6 separate regions of the Homo sapiens genome follow, and all the other regions are reported to be linked to region 2. Evidence: microRNA targets listed by miRTarBase, many of them from high-throughput screens and not tested one by one. Region 2 holds a microRNA gene; each other region holds the end of a gene's coding sequence.
The links. Region 2 holds the annotated microRNA hsa-miR-5186 (AGAGAUUGGUAGAAAUCAGGU, at 1,373-1,393, opposite strand). A microRNA usually pairs through its seed, bases 2 to 8, with sites in the 3' UTR of a target mRNA and lowers its output. Matches are read on the target gene's strand: a 7mer-m8 pairs with bases 2 to 8, a 7mer-A1 pairs with bases 2 to 7 and ends in A, and an 8mer does both.

Region 1 (4,052 bases), not on the chromosome of region 2:
TCATCTTTATACCAACATAGTCATAACATTAATTTTTTTTTGAATGGAGCAAGAGCTCCGTGAAGGCTAAAGTGCCTAGGGCCCCTGAAATTCATGATGTAACTCTGATCTTCCAGCTTCTACACCAGTCACTCCCTCACCCCAATGTCCTCTGGGTTTCTCAGACCCACTGGGGCCACATGTCCTCTGTGGCTTTGCTCCTGCCAGGCTGCTGCCTGTGTAACAACTCTGCTTATTGAGCCCTTCCCATCTGAGGACTCATCTTCCGAGGTCTTAGGTCAAACATTGCCATCTTTGTGAGGCCTTATCTGATTCCCTAAGTGGAAGGAATTGCTCCTTCTAACTCATCCAGCACCTCTTGGAGCATCTCCAGGCTTGCTATGATTTGCTTACATTTAGCGTGTGAGTTCCACGGGGACAGGACCTCGTTTGACGTCTCACGTCTCCACGTGCTTGACACAATACATAAGCTAGATTTAGGGCCAGAGAATGTTTGGGGACATGAGACAGTGGCTGTAACAGAACTTTTCAGATGTGTGTGGTTCTTCATAGCCCAAATCAACTGATTCAGCTAAGGGACAACACAGGTAAGAGAACACAACGCGAGTTTCCTTGACCAATGCCAGAAAACCTTTATTTCCACTGAGACCTCTCATCCAATTCTCTTCTTTCCGGGAACTTTTTCCCTTCCCTACTCCAGGTCGTACCCTGGCCACTCCTTTCCTTTTGGCTGGCCAATGTCTCCTCTGTAGGCTCCAGAAGGCTCTCAGGGATGTAGGCGGCCTCCCGCAGGGTTGAGTTGCAATGGGAACAAAGACAGCTGTGGTCCCATAGCACCCTCATCTGGTGACATCCTGCTACTGACAGTCAAAAGAAGCCTTCCCAGATGAAATTTTAGTCCTCTGCGCAGCCATGCTCTTCTTCCAGCAAAAGAGCCATGTGCAGTCGGGTCTGCTCCCCATGGGGGCTTTGATGTGGGCCCAGCAGTGGATCAGCCTTCCAGACACGCTCAACTCTGCACACTCTTCCTGCCGCCTCAGGCTTTCCAGGACCCTCCCGAGCCTTATCAGAGTCCTTACCCTCAGGGCTACTGATACCTTGCTGGGTGACCTTGGACAGATTCACTTACCTGGACTCAGTTTCATAATATGAAAATGATAGGGTTGGGCTACGTGATTTTCACGTTGTGCTTCCAGATTGTTAGAAGTTAGGGGCTGGAAGGCATTACCTGTCCCTCTCTCAATTTCACTCATGCTACTTTGTTTTTTTAATCTACCTTTTATATGGGGCTTAGAAAAAAGGGTTCTGGGACAAACCTGAGAATCACTGGCTCCAGGAGCTTTCTTTTAACACTAACATCCCAGGATTCCTAAGTGTGCTCTCTCCACAATGGCTACCTGGCCCTGTTTTTCCTTTCTTTTTTTTGGAGATGGAGTTTTGCTCTTGTTGCCTAGGCTGGAGTTCAGTGGCGCGATCTTGGCTCACTGCAACTTCCGCCTCCCAGATTTAAGCAATTCTCCTGCCTCAGCCTCTTGAGTAGCTGGGATTACAGGTGTGCGCCACCATGCCTGGCTAATTTTTATATTTTTAGTAGAGATGGGGTTTTACCATGTTGGCCAGGCTGGTCTCGAATTCCTGACCTCAGGTTATCCACCCGGCTCGGCCTCCCAGAGTGTTGAGATTACAGGCATGAGCCACCGTGCCCGGCCCTGGCTGTTTTCCTATGCTCTGTGGAGGCCAGCCAGCTAGAAATGATTAGAATGGAGGAAGAGGGAATGAGAAGGCTGGTGGCGAGTGGTCTAGCGTTCTTGTGGTGCAGCGGAAGGAGCCCTGGCTCAGCATTGAAGAACGAGCCTCAGTCTTGGCTCCAGCCATCTGCTAGCTATGGGACTACAGACAAGCCCCTTTACCTGTGTCTCAGTTTTCGTATCTGTAAAATAGGCACAGTGGTTTCTGTCCTGTCTTTCTCACAGGATTACTGTACAGATAAAGTAAGATAAAGGACACCTGTCAAGGAGATATCTGTAAACAGTTCTACAGACTTCAGGTAATAATAGCAAGGGAGGATCTCTTAGACCTCTGATCTGTCTGTTAGAATATACTTTTTTTTTTTTTTTTTTTCCTGAGATGGAGTTTCGCTCTTGTTGCTCAGGCTGGGGTGCAATGGTGCTGTCTTGGCTCACTGCAACCTCTGCCTCCTGGGTTCGAGTGATTCTCCTGCCTCAGCCTCCCAAGTAGCTGGGACTGCAGGTGCGTGCCATCATGCCCAGCTAATTTTTGTACTTTTAGTAGAGATGGAGTTTCACCATGTAGTCCAGGCTGGTTTCAAACTTCTGACCTCAGGTGATCCACCTGCCTTGGCCTCCCAAAGTGCTAGGATTACAGGTGTGAGCCACTGTGCCCAGCCAGAATATATCATTTCACTGGACTCTGCAGGTGCTTTGGATGATCAAGGAATAGGACATGGCTGTAGAAGTACTTTTCTTCTTCTTTTTTGTTTTTTTTTGAGACAGAGTCTTACCTGTTGCCCAGGCTGGAGTGCAGTGACACAATCAAGGCTCACTGTAGCTTCAACCTCCGGGGAACAAGCAATCCTCCCACCTCAGCCTTCTGAGTAGCTGCGACTACAGGCATAAGCCACCATACCCAGCTTTTTTTTTTTGCCGGGGGGAGGGTGGGCGTAGAGATGGGATCCTCACTATGTTGCTCAGGCCGGTCTTGAACTCCTGGGCTCAAGCCATTCTCCCACATTGTCTTCCCAAAGTGCTAGGATTTCAGGCATGAGCCACTGTGCCCAGCCTGAAGTACTTTTCTTGAACTCAGCATTGCTGCCCTGAACCCTCCCCCAGCTGCCTTCCCTACTTTGGGAGCCTCTATTTCTAGAACAGGAAAACGCTAGGCTAAATATATGTCCTAATGGTCTCTTCCATCGGTGTGAAGGAAAGAAAATGGGCCCAATGTTGTTGCAAGGATTAGGAAGGTCCTGCCTTGCCACCCAGTGGGTTTAGAAATCCATCTTTACGGCCTCCAGAGAAGCTGGTGATCAGGTTCCCAGACATCAGCAATCCTGTTTCCTGAGGAGCTTGTGGGGGCTCTCTCTGGGGATGATCTGGGTCCTAGACAAAGAGCCACAACTGATGGGGGTCACTGGGATTGCAGGGGGCCATGGCTGGCTTTTTGTCCTGGGATGTCAGGCAGGTACCAGATCCTGAGTTCCTGATGAGCTGATCCTAAAAGATGACAAAGCAAAAGGTCAGTCTGGGCCACAGACCTCTTAACGGTGCTACCAGGGACAATGCGATGGGGTGCAATTGACAAAAGCCAAGGGAACCCCACAAGGCACAAAGAGGACACTTCCCCATTCCTTTCCTGCCCTCTCATGAGACACATTCCTGAGTTCCCACCTCTATCTGGTGCCAAATCCCCATCCCTAGCTTCAGACTGAGTGGATGAAATGGTGAAAGACAAGACCATGGGCTGAGAGAAAAATGCTTTCAGGGCCTCCCGCACCCCCAGATGGCCAGGCTCAAAGACCCAGGGCCACTGCTCCACCTCCAATTTTCTGCCTTGGATTATGTTTAGACTGCTCCCTTCCCTGCAGCCTCCAGGTTAGGTTCCTCTTTCCTAAGCTGGGGTGGAGTAGGGAGGCTCACTTGGGGTGCTGGCTTGAGCTCAGCATGGTGGCGGTTACATGGCATATCCTGGAGCAGTGTGGTGTAATGGAAAGAGCCCGTGCTTTCAAGTCAGACCCATCTGGGGCTAAATCCCAGGCCTGCCATTTACTAGTGATGGGTCTTGGGCCAGTCACAGACATGCTGGGCTTCCTCCGGCTCCAGCTCATCTGTAGAAACAGTGACTATTCCTGCTTGGAAAGAGCCTCTGAAAGATTAACTGGACCCAGGCATGTGAGTGCCTAGCTTTGAGCCTAGGACACAGAGGACAAGCAGGAACTATGAATGACTCTTCACCTTCTTCTAATTGGGTTCAGCCTAAAAATGCTTCAGCCATGGCAGAGCTAGCCACGAACCATAACCTGTCACCCCATTTTTACA
Region 2 (3,000 bases):
AGACAGAAGGAAGCATTGGGTTTGCATTCAGGCATGGAAATATTAGGCTGGACTGAGAAGTGGCTGACCTTTTAGATGAAGTTTGTGTTCCCCAGTTGGCCATAGTTTTTACCAGTTTGCTTTGCTTGATATCTGCATGCATTTGGGTTACGGCAGTTGAATGAGGTATGCATGTCCTTAGAGGCCAAGAAACAATTTACTTACTGACTGAGCTTTAGCATGAGAGAGCATAATGACATGTGAGTTACCGGTGAATCAATTACAAGAGGTACCCAAAGGTAAGCGTGCAGTTGAAAGTTTCATATACAAGTGGTTGTAAATAAATAGCCTATAACTAAAAAGTAAGAATCATGGTAATGGTTAAATGTTCATTGAATACATACTAAGCACAAGATTTCTTATAGGTATCAGTCCCTTTAACTCTTGTAACAAGCCTAGGAAGTAGAAAACTGAGACAGAGGCAAGCTAAGTAACTTGTGCAAGATCACCAGCTAATAAACAGCGCAGTTAGGACTTCAGTCAGGCAATCTGGTTCTGGAATCTGTGGCTTATATTATGCTATACTTTCTCTCTAAAAACTCTGAAAGAACTCTCTAGTACTGGCAGAGAATGGGATTTACTGGTTAATTCATATGATGGTTTGACAATTGCTGTGTGAATTATCAATTGTTAGGAGGTAAGACCAGTTGAGAACTTTAAGCAGTACTTCACTGGGGTTTGGCAAATTGGTAGAGAGACCTTGAATCTAGAATCTAGTGCTTGACTTTATAGGCCCAGAAACCATATTTCACCCATTTGTAAAAATCATAATATAAAATCACCAGTATGTTTGTAACCCAGAAGTACAAAAAGTGAATAAGGAATTTGAGATGCCATTATATACAGAGGTGAGTGGTAAGGTCTGGTTTACTGGCATCCTGGGAGCTCCTGGCCAGAGCAGAAGGTGAACATTGTCAAAATTGAAACAAGGGATCAAGAAAGCCAGGCCTGCCTCCAGGTTGAGGTAAATAGTTCAAATTATGAAGTTCAAGCAGCTACAGAATGATCTGTTCCAGGGGTTCAAAACTTTTTTGTGCATCAGACTCACCTGGGGGAAGTTATAAAAACAAACAAACATAGAAATGTTCTGCTTTATATTTTTAGACCTACTAAAGCACCTACCCTGGAGTTCTAGTGAGTTACTGAGCTAATTCTGTTGCTTCTGGCCCACTGATTGGTATTTGAGAAACACTGTTCTAGTTGGAATTTGCCTTTTGAGAACGTTAATGCATAGTATCAGATAGATACGAGAGTGATAGATTAAGATGATAGCTATGATTCCTGTATTAATTAATGCATGAAAGTGTTAGCCAGCTTATGGCATGACCCTCTCACCTGATTTCTACCAATCTCTCCCCAGAAAGAAATCAGCTGAGGAAAGGTTGGTAGAAATCAGGTGAGAGGGTCAAGTCATAAGCTGGCTGAGTTGGGGAGTAGGCAGGGGTCCAGTCCTGGGAGAATCAGTGCAGAAAGCAACTGAGGCAGTGCCAATGTTTAATGAGAGGCTTATAAAATTGCCACAAAGTGAGGCCCTAGCTACATGTCATGAGAACTCCCTGGCAGAGGGGAGAAAGCAAATTTGGATTAGAATGGGAGGTATCAGCTAGAAAATCAGAAATCTGACCAAATAATGATAAACATGATAGTTTATGAATTAGGAAGCAGGGAAGTGAAACCCTACCCCACAAATGATAGATTAGGAAAGATTTGAGATGAATAGTAGAAAAGATAGTGCATAAGGTCTCCTCTGCTCTCCCCAGAACTGAGGGATGATTAAAGTTAATAGCATTTGTTGGGTTCTACTTAATAAGTACAACTTTTTGGATTTATTAAACCAGTTGGCATTGGTTGTGTTATGCTATAACAAACTCCAAATCTCAGTGGCTAACAAGGAAGTTGACTTCTTGTTCTTCTGACAACCCATGTGTTGTCCCTGCTTTGGGTCCCAGGCTGATAGAATAGTCGCTATCAGGAGGATGCTACCATGGCAGGGACAAAGAGAGCTCAGAGGAAATCATGCCAAGAGATAAACATTCAACAGGAAAGTGGCATACATTGTTTGTGCTTTCAGTTCATTGGCCAGAATAGTTACATGGCCTCCACCAACCACTGGGAGCCATAGAGTGCTATGTGCCGGAGGGCAGAGAGCTGGGAATATTTAGTGAGCAGCATTCGGTACTACCATCTTTCCCTCTGAATAGGTTAACAGCCACAAGTCCTGTCACAATTTTTAGCAATTTCTTCAATGTCAAGAAGAATTATATTTCTTAGCTAACAGAGGTGGTGTAGTTTCAGGGTGCCTGCCTGGCCTATCTACAGCACTGTCAGCTCCATGCTCACCCTTGCTGAAGAGATGAGTCTCTCTGTTCAAGTTCGTCTAATGTCATAGCCTTTTCCCTGATTGGACCAGGGACCAACACCTATCCAGGTGGCTGTCAATCTGTTGGCTAGCCTGTAGGCAAATGTATTTTCTGAGACACAGAGTCTCTAGTCAAATGGATGTGGGCCTATGAAGTAAATGGGTCTGTAGACTTGGGCCCTGGGCATTTTGATCCTGTCTGTGGACAGTAGCCAATGATCATAGATGAGGAAGATTATATGCAGTTGAGACAAAGAGAGAGAAACTTCTATCTTCAGTGGTTCCCTGGATCTCAGCTCCTATTCCTGGGAGATTCACCTCTGCTTCATTTTTTGTGAAATGGCTTTATGGCCTTATAATAAATATTCATTTTATTTGAGCCACTTTATTATCCATATGAATAAATTGAGAAGCCTAGTCACTCTGCCTCTGCTGAGAGTATCATCTGTAAACCAGGACTGTAGAAATTCTGGGACTCGTGCTAGGGTGTATAGTTGGGAACTAACAAGAAAAACTTTCACTGTAAACCTACTTGAACTTTATTTTCTTATTTTCTGTATTCCTGATGCTCTGGCATCTTGGGCCTCACAGATCTGGAGGGA
Region 3 (4,052 bases), not on the chromosome of region 2:
CTCCAGGGACCAGAAACAAGGCAGGAGGAGGGACCCAGGGCCTAGGGTGGGTGTGGAGGAGGAGGAGGTATGGCCTGTGGGTGTCTCTTCTCATCTCCCCTCCTCCTGGTGTCCAGGCCCCGCCAGCAGGCGAAGCAGGGAGATGTCAGACTGCTACACGGAGCTGGAGAAGGCAGTCATTGTCCTGGTGGAAAACTTCTACAAATATGTGTCTAAGTACAGCCTGGTCAAGAACAAGATCAGCAAGAGCAGCTTCCGCGAGATGCTCCAGAAAGAGCTGAACCACATGCTGTCGGTAAGGCCTCTCACCCAAGGGCCTTGCCTCCCTCTCCCCTTCCCTCCCCTGCAAGCCTCTGGCCTCTGAGGGTGTCTTTCCCTGCTGAGGCCTCTATCCTTCCAGTGTCCCCGCTAACTCCAGGGTCTTCTACACCCCCAGGCCTCTGTCTTCTCAGGATGCTTAGGCCTAGCCAGTGAGGGCTATATTTGCATTTCCCAAGGGAAGCAGCTGTGCAGGCCAGATCCTGGGTCTCTGCCTAGGGTCCTGCCTGGAGTCTCTCTGGGGCTTCCACCATCAGCATTGCTGACCCTGCTTCCTCCCCAGGACACAGGGAACCGGAAGGCTGCGGATAAGCTCATCCAGAACCTGGATGCCAATCATGATGGGCGCATCAGCTTCGATGAGTACTGGACCTTGATAGGCGGCATCACCGGCCCCATCGCCAAACTCATCCATGAGCAGGAGCAGCAGAGCAGCAGCTAGAGACCCCTTTGGCCACACCTTCCAGGCACTGGCCTGATGCCCCGCCCTGGTGCTCTCCCCAGGCTCCCTCCTCAGCCTCCTGCCCACCCAGGGCCCTTTACTCTCTTCTCCCTCCAGACCTTCCTCTGACCCTTGCTGAACTGGGGTCCCTTTGTGAGTGTCTCAGTCTAGAGGTACCTCCCTCCCTGGGGGGTCTCAGCTCCTGGAGTCGCAGGCCCTTGGGGCCCCTCTGTGAGATCTCAATGCTGTCTGGGGACCCTAAGAGTTTTCTCACCTGTTCAGTCTCATCTAACCTTCCAATGTCTGATGTTCCTGCCAAATTCCTGCCTGATTCTGGGTCCGTCCTGACCTCCAAAGGTCAGCTTGGTGCTTGAGGTCTCCCTGCTCTTGGTGGCAGTGGTAGCAGCAACAGCAGCAGCAGCAGCAGCAGCAGCAGCAGAGACCTCTCCACTTTCCCTTAGCCCCTCTGCTGGGTAGAGAGGCACTTTCAGGGACTTCCCTCCAGCTGCCTCTTCATCTGGGAATGAGCTAAGCAAGGCTGAGCCTCCTCCTGTTGCTTGAAATAATGATGATATAAAGGCTGGATTTGGAGTTTGTATCCCCTGGTCCCTCTGGGATGCTCATTAAAACCTTCCCACTCCTTGGAAACGTTTTATGCTTTGGTGGTCTTAGCCCTTGGGCCCTGTGATAAGAGAGAATCTCACAGAAGAACCTCAAAGGCAGAGCAAGAAAGGAGCCAGAACTCCTAAATTCCAACAGGCACTGTCAGCTGTGGGCCAGCAGCTCCCTCCATCCTCCTCCATAAAGGGCCAAAGGCCTTAGGTCACCATCTCTGGGCCCTTTTAGCCCAGACTCAGACTCAAATTCAACTTCCAGGCACACTGTAAGTCCCGTTTAGTCCTCACTGCAATTCCACGAGAGAGGGACCATGACCCTTAGTCTTTTTTTTTTTTTTTTTTTGGAGCGGAGAGTTTAATAGGCAAGAAGGGGCAAGACGGAAGGGAGAAGGAAGAAGCTCCCCTGTACAGAGACAGAGGGACGGAGGCCCCAAAGCTGAGAGAGGGAACCCCACCTGCCACAGATACCATCTAGGTATATATACAGAGGCTGGAGGAGGAGGAGTCTGATTTGTATAGGGCTCAGGGGATTGGTTTGACTATGCGTGTCATTCACGTAGCCCTCGGAAAAAGCTGGCCCTCACACCCTAGCCTTTTTTTTTTTTTTTTTTTTTTTTGAGATGGAGTTTCACTCTTGTTGCCCAGGCTGGAGTGCAATGGCGTGCAATCTCGGCTCACCGCAAGCTCCGCCTCCCGGGTACAAGCAATTCTCCTGCCTCAGCCTCCCGAGTAGTTGAGAATACAGGTATGTGCCACAATACCCCGCTATTTTTGTTGTATTTTTAGTAGAGACGGGATTTCTCCATGTTGGTCAGGCTGGTCTGGAACTCCTGACCTCAGGTGATCCGCCCGCCTCGGCCTCCCAAAGTGTTGGGATTACAGGCGTGAGCCACCGCACCTTGCCCCACCCTAGCCTTTTAATATGCAAATGCAGGTCTACACACCTGGGGATATGTGAGGGCAGCCACATTGCCAGGAACATGTGGGGAAAGGGCAAGAAGGCCGGGGGAATCACCATGTTTGGGTGGACCCAGTTTCTAAGGGCTTGCATTTGCATATCAAAGGTTGCCAACCTGGCTCTAAGAGCCGGGGCTTTACAAGAAACTTTTCTGGAGATGCTTCAAAAAAATGAAAACTCCAGCCTGACCAACATGTAGAAACCCCGTCTCTACTAAAAATACAAAATTAGCCGGGCGTGGTGGCGCATGCCTGTAATCCCAGCTACTCGGGAGGCTGAGGCCAGAGAATCGCTTGAACCCAGGAGGCGGAGGTTGTGGTGAGCCAAGATCGCACCATTGCACTCCAGCCTGGGCGACAAGAGCAAAACTCCGTCTCAAAAAAAAAGAAAAAGAAACAAAACAAAAAACTTCCCAAGGACCCAAGGACCCATTTTCCTCTCTATCTGCCTAAAATAATTTCTTAATAACTCCTACAACATTCCCCCCTGTGGAGATGCCACACTAACTGCTGTTAGGGAGTTTTGGGCGACGACTCCTTCTGGCTACTTCTTGTTGCAAAAGGGCGTCGAATGGGGAAGAGCAGCTAGGGCTCCTCCTGGGGTCAATCTAAGGGTCCTCAGAAGAATGATGTGTCTATGTGTGGTTCTGTTTACAGCACCATTTGGAGTTTGATTGCTTCTAGATGAGAAGAAACAATTTGAGTTATAGTATTGTGTATACAGGGTCCAAATATCAATACAAGACACATAAGCAAGAGAGGGCTTAATAAAGGGGTTAACCAATTCCATAAAGAAGACTGGAATTTATTAAAGAGGCATTGTAGCCACTCGGGGATCAATAATTTTGATTTGATTTTTAAGTACTTGTAGATTTTCTTTTAACTAGAGGCATTAATCCGAAAGCAGCATGTTTCATTGAAAACTGCATCACTAAACCCAATAAAAAGTCCTAGCAGATTCAGTGGTAGTAAAACTTTTATGCTTCCTTTTCATTAGTAGCTATTATCCCTGCTATAAGGATAATGATTAAGCAAAATATGACAGCAATGGAAACTCTCTGTTTAATATTTCAGTTAGAAGGTGCTACCATGTATAATCCTATTGCAAATAATAGAGTGAGTATAGCTATTTCCATAAGTGTGGTGTGGTAGATAATTTCCATCTAAACTTTTACCTGTCAAGATATAGAATTCCCCTTTGGGGGTCTATGAAGTTCCTTGGTTTTATTTTCCTAAACGAAGAAACCTCTGGGTTATGGGCACCCTACTCACTTTTATTACCTGGTAGAATTTGCAGAATAATTGCCCAGAACTAATATATTGATTCAGATTTTATATTACCCATCCCTTAATTTTTCTTCCAAGCTGCAGGAGATCACTGCTTGATTCACAGGAATAAGCAGGGTTAGTCTAAAATGTAGGCGAAAAGCTTGAAAACAAAAACAAAAAACAAAAAAATGTATGATAAGCTTTGGAGCACAATTTTTCTCTCTAGTCCTCGTTCTTGGTAAAAACAAGTTATGAATAAACTGTAGTCTTATACTTGCCCTGATTATTTGCATAAAGTGCAGCAAGAATGGTTATTTGTACACAGGCCTTTTGATTGGCTTTGATGAAACTCTGTTTCACAAGGAATTTCAGATAAGACTATTAAAGCCTAAAGTTTGTATTTGAGGATACAAACCTCAAATACCTGTTAGTTGGGTGATCCTCTCCTC
Region 4 (4,052 bases), not on the chromosome of region 2:
TAACAATACAAAAATTAACCAGGCGTGGTGGCAGACACCTGTGATCCCAGTTACTCGGGAGGCTGAGGCATGAGAATTGCTTGAGCCCAAGAGGTGGAGGTTGCAATGAGCCGAGATCGCGCCACTGCACTCTAGCCTGGGCAACAGAGTGAGACTCCATCTCAAAAAACAGATAAAAAAACACAATAAAGAAATTGAGGTAAGCTCATAGAATTAGATTAGTTAACAACTATCTCAGTTCCAAACATATTAAATAGATCAAAATAAATACTGATTTAACAACTATCTCAGTTCCAAACATATGAAATAGATAAAAATACTGATTTGTATTTCATTAGTATATTGGAGTGATTTATAAAATAATACTCGATGGAATTAAAATTTTATACTTTCTGCCATGGTGAAAAATAATTTTGTATTTAAAAATAAAATCAGATTTTTTCCTTTTTCAGGTGATGAGCTATATTTAGAAGATTCAGACTTTTTGGAAAATCTTATGTCTACTGAAAAAAAGACTGAGGAAATCATGAAGGAAGGCAAGCAGTTTCACCGGATAGTGACATACCATCGCCACCTTTATGATATCCACGTGACTGTTCAGCCAAAGTATAAACACGTTTATCCTAAGAACTCTGTAGTAAGAAAAAGCCATTTGTAGGGTGCTTAAGCTTGTTTGTAAAATGGCCTACTTGAAGTCCTCATGAATAATGAGGGTTGACTTTCATTTGCTTGAAACTTAAGGAAGTTTGTGCCTATAAAAGTTACTGCAATTCAGTATTTCTTTATTTTTTTCGAGACAGAGTCTCAATCTGTCGCCCAGGCTGGAGTGCAGTGGCATGATATAGGCTCACTGGAAGCTCTGCCTCAGGGGTTCATGCCATTCTCCTGCCTCAGCCTCCCGAGTAGCTGGGACTACAGGCGCCCGCCACCATGCCCAGCTAATTTTTTTTTGTATTTTTAGTAGAGACGGGTTTTCACCGTGTTAGCCAGGATGGTCTCAATCTCTTGACCTCGTGATACGCCCGCCTTGGCCTCCCAAAGTGCTGGGATTACAGGTGTGGGCCACCACACCCAGCCTTTTTTTTTTTTTTTTTTTTTTTTTTTGAGACAGAGTGTCTCACTCTTGCCCAGAACCCAGGCTGGAGTGCAGTGGCCCAATCTCGGCTCACTGCAACCTCCACCTCCCAGGTTCCAGCGATTCTCATGCCTCAGCCTCCTGAGTAGCTGGGACTATAGGCATGCACCACCATGCCCCACTAAATTTTGTATTTTTAGTAGAAACAGAGTTTCACCATGTTGGCCAGGCTGGTCTCGATCTCCTGACCTCATGATCTGCCCGCCTTGGCCTCCCAAAGTGTGGGATTACAGGCGTGAGCCACTGTGCCCAGCATGGTGTTTCTTATATCAGGTGTTTTAGGGAGCTCGCTTGCTTATTCCATTCTTTAATCCTTACAGTGTGCCACACGTATAAAGTTTATAACGTATTAATGATCTCATTACCCAAAACCAGAACATAATTTCACAAGGGTTCCTACTTCTGTATTGTTTTATTATCTCAAAAATTTAAATAACATGTTCTGCTGTTTATTGTTCTTGTTATCCACTGTATTAGCACCTTCCCTGATGTGCTTTGGAGGTTGATCAATGAATTTCTGAGACTTTCTGCTGGAATTACTTTAAGGGTGTCTTATTAGATGATGAAAAGTTGGCTGAGACACCCTTCAAGTGACCATGTCATTGTTTTCTTGCTATGTCTTTAGCTTAATGATTAAGATACAATTCTTTTTAAAATCAAATGGTATTAGTTATTATGTTTCCCAAATTAGAAATCGATTTTAGTTAACATTTTATTTTATTTTATTCTATTTTATTTATTTTTGAGACAGAGTCTCGCTCTGTTGCCCAGGCTGGAGTACAATGGCGCAATCTCAGCTCACTCCAATCTCCGCCTCCCAGGTTCAAGCGATTTTTCTGCCTCAGCCTCCCGAGTAGCTGGGATTACAGGCACCCACTACCATGCCCAGCTAATCTTTGTATTTTTAGTAGAGACGGGGTTTCACCATGTTGGCCAGTCCGGTCTCGAACTTCTGACCTGAGGTGATCTGCCCACCTTGGCCTCACAAAGTGCTGAGATTACAGGCTTGAGCCACCACGCCTGGCCTAGTTAGCATTTTAAAGAAACACAAAGCCATAACAAAAACCATCATTGTTTGTATTCCACACTGTTAATGAATGTAAAGAGGTTAGAAATGTAGTGTTTGATTAATGATGTTTATTTTTACTGTATTTAATATGAGTAATTTTTCATCATCTTTCAAGAGGAATAATGTTTATTGATTAAAGGTGAGAAATGATAGTTAAGACACCAATTCCATGTCCAGATCTTTGACTGTATCATGCATTGTACAATTGATTTCATATTTTATGAAATGCCTTAATTTTCCTACTATAACATAAAGACAATGATGAATAAAGTTTATGTGTATGATTAAATCCAGATTAGAGAACTATATCTAGCACAGCAGTCCTCAGCCTGGGCACTTTTGCCCTAGGGAACATTTGGCTATGTCTGGAAACATTTTTGGTTGTTGAAACTGTGGGCAGAGTGGGTGGGTGGGGGAGTATGCTACTACCATCTAGTAGTAGGGAGAGGCCAGGGATGCAACTGAACAGCCTGCAATGCGCAGTCTCACCCATAGCAAAGAATTACCTGACCAAGGATGAGACACCCAATCTAAAGTAAAATCTTTTTTTTTTTAAATAAATGGTTCCAATATGTAAATTTTGAGAACCACAGATACTATTATTCTGTCTGCCTTTTGAATCTACAAAAATGGGAAATTACGTCCAATTGGAAAAAAAAAAAAAGTTGGCTGGGCTGGGCGCAGTGGCTTATGCCTATAATCCCAGCATTTTGGGAGGCTGAGGTGGGCGGATCACCTGAGGTCAGGAGTTCAAGACCAGGCTGGTTAATGTGGTGAAACCCCATCTACTAACAATACACAAAAATTAGCCAGGCATGGTGGCCTGTAATTCCAGCTACTCAGGAGGCTGAGGCAGGAGAATCGCTTGAACCTGGAGGTGGAGGTTGCAGTGAGCCCAGATTGCACTCCAGCCTGGGTGACAAGAGGAAAACTGTCTCAAAAAAACAAAAACAAAAACAAAGTGTACAAAAATTTTTGTTGTCTTTTGATTTTTTTGAGATAGAGTCTCACTTTGCTGCCCAGGCTGGAGTGCAGTGGTGCAATCTCAGTTCACTGCAACCTTCACCTCCTGCGTTCAAGCAATTCTTGTGCCTCAGCCTCCCAAGTAGCTGTGACTATAGGCGCCCGCCACCACACCCAGCTAATGTTTATATTTTTAGTAGAGACAAAGTTTCACCATGTTGGCCAGGTTGGTCTTGAACTCCTGACCTCAGGTGATCTGCCCGCCTCAGCCTCCCAAGGTGCCCGGGATTATAGGCATGAGCCACCATGCCCAGCCTAGCTTTGTCTTTTGACTCTCAAAGATTACTAGAATGTTGCCGCTGGAAGGGACCTCATTGAACACCATGATTTTGCCAGTGAGAAAACCGAGACACGCAGCTGGTTAGTGCCACAGTCAACTCCCTCTTCACTGGAGTTGCCATGGCTCAGTGGGTGATATTAGAAGATGTCATGATAAAGTAATATGACCAGTTTTTCTTCATAGAAAAGATCGTTTTCACACCACGTTTCCCTCATGTATGCTTTTTTTTGTTTTTGTTTGTTTGTTTGTTTGTTTGTTTGTTTTGAGATGGAGTCTCACATTGTTGTCCAGGCTGGAGTGCAGTGGCGTGCTTTTGGCTCACTGCAACCTCTGCCTCCTGGGTTCAAGCAATTCTCCTGCCTCAGCCTCCCGAGTAGCTGGGATTACAGGCACGTGCCACTGCACCTGGCTAATGGTTGTATTTTTAGCAGAGACAGGGCTTCACCGTGTTGGCCAGGCTGGTCTTGAACTTCTGACCTCAAGTGGTCCATCCACGTCATGCTGGCAATACAGGTGTGAGCCACTGCGCCTGGCCTGTATGTTGT
Region 5 (3,912 bases), not on the chromosome of region 2:
TGCTTCTCCCTGAAGTCAGAGGCAGCAGCTGGCATCCCCTCTCCTCTCCCCAGACTCAGTTCTTTAGGATTTATAAAGGAACAGCAGAGCTCTGAAAAGGGCACCAACACACTAGCTCTGATTCCAGAGGCTCTCCCAGTAGCAAGGCATCCCCGAGAGACTGTGTGTGGAGAAGCAGACGTGAGCCCAGATAGGTTGACAGGGCAGAGTTCCTGAGGCCAGAGAAGCTGGGCTAGGCAGGCTTGGCTCCCCACAGCTCAGGGAAGGCCAGCACTGCGCAGACCCGAAGAGGGGGATAGATGCCCTCTTCCAGCATGGGCTACGCTTTGCTTTGTTGCAAGGACCCCTCATCTTTATACACTCATCACACTGGTGTTGTGCTCAGTGAGAGGCATCTTAAGAAACTGACTTTTGTATCTAGATGGCTCTGTTTAAAAAAAAGGATGCTTAGAGTGGGGTCCCCTCTAAGGTCAAGCTACGCGGTGGGGCTTCATCCCACGGGGGCAGGTTGCGTGCCAGTAGCAGGCCACTCAGCACCCTCGGGGGGTCCCTGTGACCCTCTACACCAAGTGAGATCAGTACTTCCCCCCACTAAGGGACACGGCACCTTCTGAGGAAGACACTCCAGGACTGGCATCCCAGAGGAAATACTGAGCCGGGCATGCACAACACCCGAGGCACCAAACTGCTCACCAGGCAGCCAGCCCGGCCCGCTGCTGTCTGCTCCTCAGCCACGCTCCCTGCCCCGCACACAGCCCAGCCGTGGCTGAACAGACTTCCTACCTGGAGTAGGGAGAAGAAAACTGCCACTTAGCCAAGGCCTCCCTTTGCGCAGTGAGCCTAAACAGAAAACGCTCTCTCCTTTCCTAGTGATGGATGCGGCGGGCACTGATAATCTTGTGTGTACACTGGTCAGTATGATTTCATTTCAGTGCATGAATAGCGCCAACAACCTGCACATATCCCTCGGGCTAACAAAACACAGATAAGCTATAGTTAAGAATTCAGTCACTCATATACCTCCTGACATAATTTCACTACATGATGAATTTGGTATTAAAATAAGACGGAGACACACATAAAATGGCCACAACACACATTTGGTTTCTGAATCCCTGTTTGGGGCCAAACTGACCCTGGCTGTACAGGCAGCCTCTCTGGCACAGGCCGCATCTGAGGCAGGAGGCACAGAGCCCTCAGGCAGGGGACACAGCCACTGCCGGGCCCCATGGGCCCAGGGACAGGGGAGGAGGGACAGTTGGCTCCCTGGGAGGAGGAGCAGGGGCTGGCAATCCCCAAAGTTCCCTCCTTTAAAAACACGGGTCTAGAAATGCCTTCTCGGCACACAGTACAGAGTGCAGCTAGAAGGTCCGACTCGTTTTCTGTTAAAGTATGTTCTAGTGGGAAGGGGAGGAGCTTGCACTCCACATCACGTGTTTACTGAAAAAGCCCTGTGGAAGATTTCCATTTGGCATCTGTGTAGCAGCATCTTGGGTTAACAAGAGCAAGGACCAGGGAGGTGGGCGACGACACTCTGTGAGCTTAGGCGCTGGGTCGGGGAGGAGGGCTGGCTGGCAGACCCCAGGCTGGAATGACAGGATGAAGTCAACTTGCCTCTTGCCAATGATAAACCATGGGTTTTAAATTCATTAACATTCATTTTGGTGATAAAAATTCCTTAGGGTGGGAGCAAAATCACATTCCCAAGCAAATGTTAAATCTTCCTGAGGGAAAGGGGTACAGTTAAACATTAAATTCTCAAAATACCACTGAGCTCAGAGAGGTGATTGCAGGTCCCTCTGAGGCAGGCTACACCCCACAGTGATGACAGACTTGGCAGGTTCTGCAGTAACACGGTCTTCTTCATTCAGCCAGCGAGATCGACGGTGATGCCCACTGGGGCACAGAGGAAGGGTGCCCCTCGCTGGGAGGGCCAAGGAAGGCTACCGGAGGGGCAAGTCCAGCCCATCAGGGTCACATCATGGGATCACAGCAGAGTTCAGACAGAACAACTTAAAACTCTGCAAAAGACACTTTAAAAACATGATCTCTTGAAAAAATAAATCGCAACAATTTTCAACTTCATGCAAATCGAGGGCAGAGGAGTGTGAATAATGATAAAAGGGAGAGCTGAAAAAATAAACATGATTCTATTTGGGCGGAATCAGTTCATCTCCAAAATCTTGAACGCCATGCCCCGGCTGCCAACTTCACATCTCTCGTTTCCATTCCTCCCTCACTGTCCTCCTCCGCGGCTCCTGGGAAGGGCACAAGGTCTTTGGTCTCAGGATGTTGCAGGGTACAGCATGGCGGACAAGCTCACACCAGTGAAGTCATGGGCAGACAGGGCCGGGCCCTCGGGACTGGGCGGGTGCGGGCCTGGGCGGGTGCAGCCAGCGCGGCCTAGATGGCGCCTTCGTTGTGCAGGCTGTGGTTGGCCTTACTGTGCGTCACACAGTTCTGTTCGTTGAGCAGGTTGGCTGTCTCGTCTGGCAACCCGTCATGCAGCTCCGTAAGAGTCAATTCGATTTTAGTGTTTTCACTGTCTGAAGACTGGGGGGTTTTGTCCATCCGGGATGCCATCAAGGCATTTTGGTATTGCTGTCTTGAGATCTGGGGCCAGAAGATGGCACAGAAAACAAACCAAGATAATGCTTATTTTTAGGTTCTCTGATCTCCACACGTTCAATCCCGACAGGCCCACAGCAGCCTCTCTAGGAGAAAATCACACTTGAGCGCAGTGAGCCACTTTGTCAAGTTCAAGTTGACTTTGGTGAACAAGTCAGTTCTTACTGATGTAACCCACTTCCAAATATTGTCTCAAAATTTTAGGGACTAGAAAATAGAGACTGGTTTCTCCCAGCTAAAGCTGGCTTGTTCTCCAAAAGTCATCTTTATTTCAGACCAAGATGAGTACTCTGACTGCCCGGCAGAAGACAGAGGTGGAGCCTTCCCCGCAACCCTCCAAGTCTCCTGACCTCAGCCTTCCCAGGGCCAGGCAGGGAGCCACGCACCCAGGAGCTCTTTGAAAAGGGGCTACTCTTTTTTCCAGGATCTCTGGCTCCCATTCCCTGAAAGAGCCACATTTGATTTGGCAGCTCATTGGATAGAACCAAGAAGATCAACGTTTTTCTCAACCTGAGGCTTGGGCACAGCAGACGAAGACAGGGTGTGTAGTTGAGAATGGAAGGCAGGGCACCCACAAAGTGACAAAGGGAGAGTTCTGAGGAGGGCAAGGAGCAAAACAGACAATTTGCCAGGGAAGTTGACAACTAACTGCCAGGTCCAGCCACACTGCACTCACGTCTCTCACCTTAACAAACTGCAGATCCGAAAGGGCTCGCACCGAGTAATCGGGGATGTAGACTTGGAGGAGCGAAGAATTGAGCTGGTTATTGCTGCTCCCCAGTGTTGGTGTGACGGCGTCAATCCGGTCGCTTCGACTGAGAGAGTCTGAGTGATTCAAGCCACATGGGCGAGGAGGGGACTTATTTTCACCTGGAAAAGGAGGGAAAAATCCAACTGTTTAAGTGAAGTAGATACAGCCAATAAAACCAGTTATTTTCCAAAATAAAAAATACTAAATGCCACACAAGCCCAGCCAACTGATTCCAGATGTCTCGGCCGCACAGTATGCCAGAGGGTATCCTATGTATGGCGGACTCGCGGGCTTCCCTGTACCAGCAGGCTATGTCCATCTCAGCTGCTTGGCCCTGTGTATGTGACAGACACAATCCTCCCAAGTCTCTAACAGCAAAAACCCTGCACTGTGTGCCTTCGTGAGGAACATTCCCGGGTACTGTGAGATGCTCAGGCGAGGTTGGGCCAAGGCCCAACATGCAGAAGCTGCTTGATATCAAAGGTAGGCTACGCAGAGGACAGCACTTCATTACTTTGCCCGAAGTAAAAACA
Region 6 (3,931 bases), not on the chromosome of region 2:
AGAAGCCCTACACATGCACCCAGTGCGGCAAGAGCTTCCAGTACTCGCACAACCTGAGCCGCCATGCCGTGGTGCACACCCGCGAGAAGCCGCACGCCTGCAAGTGGTGCGAGCGCAGGTTCACGCAGTCCGGGGACCTGTACAGACACATTCGCAAGTTCCACTGTGAGTTGGTGAACTCCTTGTCGGTCAAAAGCGAAGCACTGAGCTTGCCTACTGTCAGAGACTGGACCTTAGAAGATAGCTCTCAAGAACTTTGGAAATAATTTTATATATATATAAATAATATATATATATATACATATATATAAATAGATCTCTATATAGTTGTGGTACGGTCTAAAAGCAGTCTTGTTTCCTGGAAATAAAAAGTTGGGATATTAACTTGTTTTTGCACTTTAGAATAGCATGAGAATCTCACTAATTTAGCATTCTGATAAAAGAAACTTTAGAGCAAGTCAGAATAGAGAGGTGTTTTTCCTTTGAGGGGATAGGGGAAGTAAGCCAATAAGAACCTTTTAAACAAATCGTCCTGTCACAAAATGCTTTCATATGGCTTAATTTTGTCAACACTGCATTGTCTTTTGAGCTCTTTTTTCCCCCCCAACAAAGTTTTTTTGTTTTTTGTTTTTTTTTTTAAGTAGAAATTCCCTCCAGTTTTATTAGCCTCTTTATATGTCTCAAATTGCATGAATTTTTTCTGGCTGTTGGAAACCTGAATGCTTTTAGACCCAAATGGAAAATTTCTGAAATGCTGGATTATCTATTTTTAAACAAGCAGTTGACTTAAAACTTTCTGTGGCAACTTCTGGTTTTCTGACAGTTCCCAGTGAGAGAAATGCTGAAAGTACACTGGGATCACTGGGACACTGTCTTATGAAGGTTTGCTTGGGATGAAAAAGGATATTGCAGCTTCAGCAGTGTTGAACTGTGTGTTTAAAAATGTGAATTACTGTTATTGTATACTGTAATTGATTACATGGGCTGGGGGGGTGTCAAAGAACTTGACAGGTTGTGTTGATGCTCTTAGTTGAGTCTTGAAAAGTAAATATTAACGCTACAGAAATGCATGAGTTTCAATATATTTTTTGTCTTTGTTTGCATTGTATAACTTTAACGAGTGAGTTTAAAATTATTTAATTTCCTTAGAAAAATAACACCATTTGGAAAAAAAAACTGGTGTTATGAAGAACGTAAATGCACTGTTTTTATTTTTATTTTATATAATTTAAATTGACTTTCCCACTGTCTTTAAGTTGAAACTGTTAAGCTGAATAAAAACTTAAGCTGCAAATTGATAACTTCGCTACATAACAAGGAAAATATAAATGTTTACAAACAGCTTAAAGATTTGCATGTGCAGTGTGCATTTATAACAAACTTCTAATTGCACAAAACCCATGCCAGCTCAGAGTTTAGGTGTACACATTTACCCAGTTGAGCGTTCTTAGAATAACTACTGCACAAGTTGACAATAGGTCGTTCTCTCTTTTTTTTTGTTTGCTCCCTTTTTCTTTTTCTCCCCTTCCTCCTTACCCTCCCTCCCTTACTCTCCCCCCCCACCACCACCCTCCACCCCCAACTCATGAAAAGATTCTATGGACTGAAAAAGCCCCAGGCTGAAAGGACTGGACTGCCTTGATTGACATGGGGAAGGGGGTTAGTAGACTATGTGGATTGCGGCAGCAGAGGCTGCAGCCTAACGTGTGGTTTTAATGACCAGCACGCAAGGCAAAAGCATTTTGCACAGTGTTTGTTTTCCTGTCTTGCACTTACAAATAAGGTCTATGGGAGTAGCATGGAAAACGTTTGCTGTTTTTCCCTTTTTTTTTTAATTGCTTTTGTTTAAAATTTGATCGCCTTAACTACTGTAAACATAGCCTATTTTTGTGCTTAAGATACTGAATGGAAAACTCCATTGTGTGTTGCTGGACTGTTTTGGAAATATTTGGTTAAATGTGTGTTAATTTGGCTGTAATGGCATTTAAAGCAAACAAACAAACAAAAAAAGCTGTGAAAATGGCCTTGGAGCATTATCTTTAGTTACTTGAAGAGTTTCTAGTTTTTTTAAAATACAGTTTATGTTAAAATAATTTTTATTAATTTAGAGAAGACAATCAATGTCTGTGAGAAAACGGACTTTCTTTTGGATTTTCTTTTTGTGGTCATTGTGAGTGATTGCTTTTTCCTTTTCTTAGTTTCACATTCTTCCTTTGTTCTAAAACTTAGACTGACATCTAGCTTTGACAATCATAGTATGTTTTATTTTCCTGAGGGGGAATAACTTATAATGCTGTTTAGTTTTGTACTATTGGTGTGTTGGTGAATTTTTAAACTGTGTGCTAACTGCAATAAATTATATGAACTGAGAATTTCTTGTGTGTATTTTTTATTGTGATTATGTAGTGTATAGATTCTAAATATGTATCATACCTGGCATCTTTAATATCAATTCTATTCGGAGTTTATGAAATTATTAGAATGCCTTAAATCACTCGAGTGGAAAATGTGTAAGCATTCTAGTCACTTAAGAAGATACTAAATGCACATTTAAAAAATGCGACCCATTTTCACAATCTACATCAAGAATGTTGAGGTAATTCCCTAGAAACTCATGAATCATGAAACTACGTGGCAGCATAGGTTGTTAAAAATACACTGTACAACTACTAATCCATATACCGTAAGTCACTTTTCGTGTGTAATTTTATCCTAAGTTGATCGGTCAAATCTATTCTCCTGTGTTCTGGTTTAAGTGGAAAATTGAAGGAGACCGGATGTTTTAATTTGGAAGACTGCTTGGCTAATGACTGGAATTCTAGGCAATTGAATTAGCAGGCATGCAATTGTTCACGATTAGCTATATACATCCTTTTTGTTGCTGGGAGAACTCGAAAGTTTCTAGGTTTTAATTCTCAAGTTTTAATTTAAACATGTAATTAAATACATGGACCATTAAAAGAACTCTGTTCCCTACTTTTTATGATTGTCCCAACTTCATGCTTATCTAGTTGGGTACATGTCAGGGTGAGAAACATTGCTGGTTGACCTGGGTAGGGAATTGACAGAACACTCACACATGCGGATGATACTGTAGAGGAATTGTCACAAACAACCCTAAGCTCAAGCAGTCAGGTGCAGGCATGGAGAGGTTTTGTAAACCGTGCTTGTCTCTAACTTCCAACCTTAAATAGAAATATGACTATGAAATTTTACATTATTACTGTCAAACTATGTTTATATTCAGTGGCCTATAGTAAGGTCAATATTTTTAACCTACAGAAGTGGGATATAAGGTCTGAAGTTTGAAAATGGACCATTTACCAACTACCTGGTGGCTTTGGATAGGAAGCCACAGGGATTTTGTCATGAAGTATAATAACATAATTTGGAATCCTAATTTCCATCCCCCTGCCTTTTTTTTTTTTTTTCTAAAACAATTTTTAAAGTATGTAACTCATCCTTGGTTTTAACCAGCCAAATACTGTTTCACATGAAAGGGGAATGTACATTTGACCCCCATAGAATAATTTCTTGAGCAGTTACAAGCTTACAAAAAGGGGAGGGAGGGGGACTTTTTATTTTCAGTTCCTATAGTAACTGGTCAGAGTATCTCAAAGCTTCCTGAAGATGCTGAGCGTTTACTTGAATTTAGTTCTGTGGACTAACATCTAATTTTAAGTAAGGAACATTATCTTAACAATCTTAACTGGATATACTTATAAAAATAATATTTTGACATGATTTGGAAGAAGTAACTTCTTAAAACATTCTTTGCAAAACTAGAACAGAATATTAATTACACAAACTGCCACATTTGGTAAGTGAAATGAAGGAATCATTTATTTGCCACATTTAAAAAAGGAAATTAATTTGTCATGTGATCATGTTGGAAACCATTAAAACTGATCCCTCCTTTGACATCTGGCTG

Region 1: the mRNA of GALNT6 is a reported target of hsa-miR-5186. Seed matches in the 3' UTR shown: 7mer-A1 at 1,677-1,683.
Region 3: the mRNA of S100A16 is a reported target of hsa-miR-5186. The part of its 3' UTR that is shown has no 7-base or 8-base seed match.
Region 4: the mRNA of NUDT19 is a reported target of hsa-miR-5186. Seed matches in the 3' UTR shown: 7mer-m8 at 999-1,005, 7mer-m8 at 1,156-1,162, 8mer at 1,924-1,931 and 7mer-m8 at 1,940-1,946.
Region 5: the mRNA of CNNM2 is a reported target of hsa-miR-5186. The part of its 3' UTR that is shown has no 7-base or 8-base seed match.
Region 6: the mRNA of ZBTB18 is a reported target of hsa-miR-5186. Seed matches in the 3' UTR shown: 7mer-A1 at 414-420.

The regions. Positions count from the first base shown.
Region 1 is chr12:51,351,263-51,355,314 of GRCh38, forward strand. It overlaps GALNT6 (polypeptide N-acetylgalactosaminyltransferase 6), which reads right to left. Exons shown (of 12, transcript NM_007210.4): 12 at 1-3,230. The coding sequence ends at 3,117. Among named protein-coding and RNA genes, the nearest start is that of CELA1, 6.6 kb to the left of the region's middle.
Region 2 is chr3:151,564,532-151,567,531 of GRCh38, forward strand. MIR5186 (microRNA 5186) reads right to left here and starts at 1,464; the gene lies at 1,345-1,464. The region is part of intron 1 of LINC02066 (long intergenic non-protein coding RNA 2066); the gene reads left to right. It also overlaps a transcript of IGSF10 not described here.
Region 3 is chr1:153,604,242-153,608,293 of GRCh38, reverse strand. It overlaps S100A16 (S100 calcium binding protein A16), which reads left to right. Exons shown (of 3, transcript NM_080388.3): 2 at 117-295; 3 at 602-1,408. The coding sequence starts at 143. The coding sequence ends at 760. Among named protein-coding and RNA genes, the nearest start is that of S100A16, 6.9 kb to the left of the region's middle. RefSeq lists an enhancer at 2,309-3,264.
Region 4 is chr19:32,711,300-32,715,351 of GRCh38, forward strand. NUDT19 (nudix hydrolase 19) reads left to right here. Exons shown (of 3, transcript NM_001105570.2): 3 at 453-2,493. The coding sequence ends at 658. Among named protein-coding and RNA genes, the nearest start is that of TDRD12, 6.4 kb to the right of the region's middle.
Region 5 is chr10:103,075,672-103,079,583 of GRCh38, reverse strand. CNNM2 (cyclin and CBS domain divalent metal cation transport mediator 2) reads right to left here. Exons shown (of 8, transcript NM_017649.5): 7 at 3,314-3,498; 8 at 1-2,613. The coding sequence ends at 2,404. Among named protein-coding and RNA genes, the nearest start is that of NT5C2, 120 kb to the left of the region's middle.
Region 6 is chr1:244,055,105-244,059,035 of GRCh38, forward strand. It overlaps ZBTB18 (zinc finger and BTB domain containing 18), which reads left to right. Exons shown (of 2, transcript NM_205768.3): 2 at 1-2,372. The coding sequence ends at 266. Among named protein-coding and RNA genes, the nearest start is that of ZBTB18, 5.8 kb to the left of the region's middle.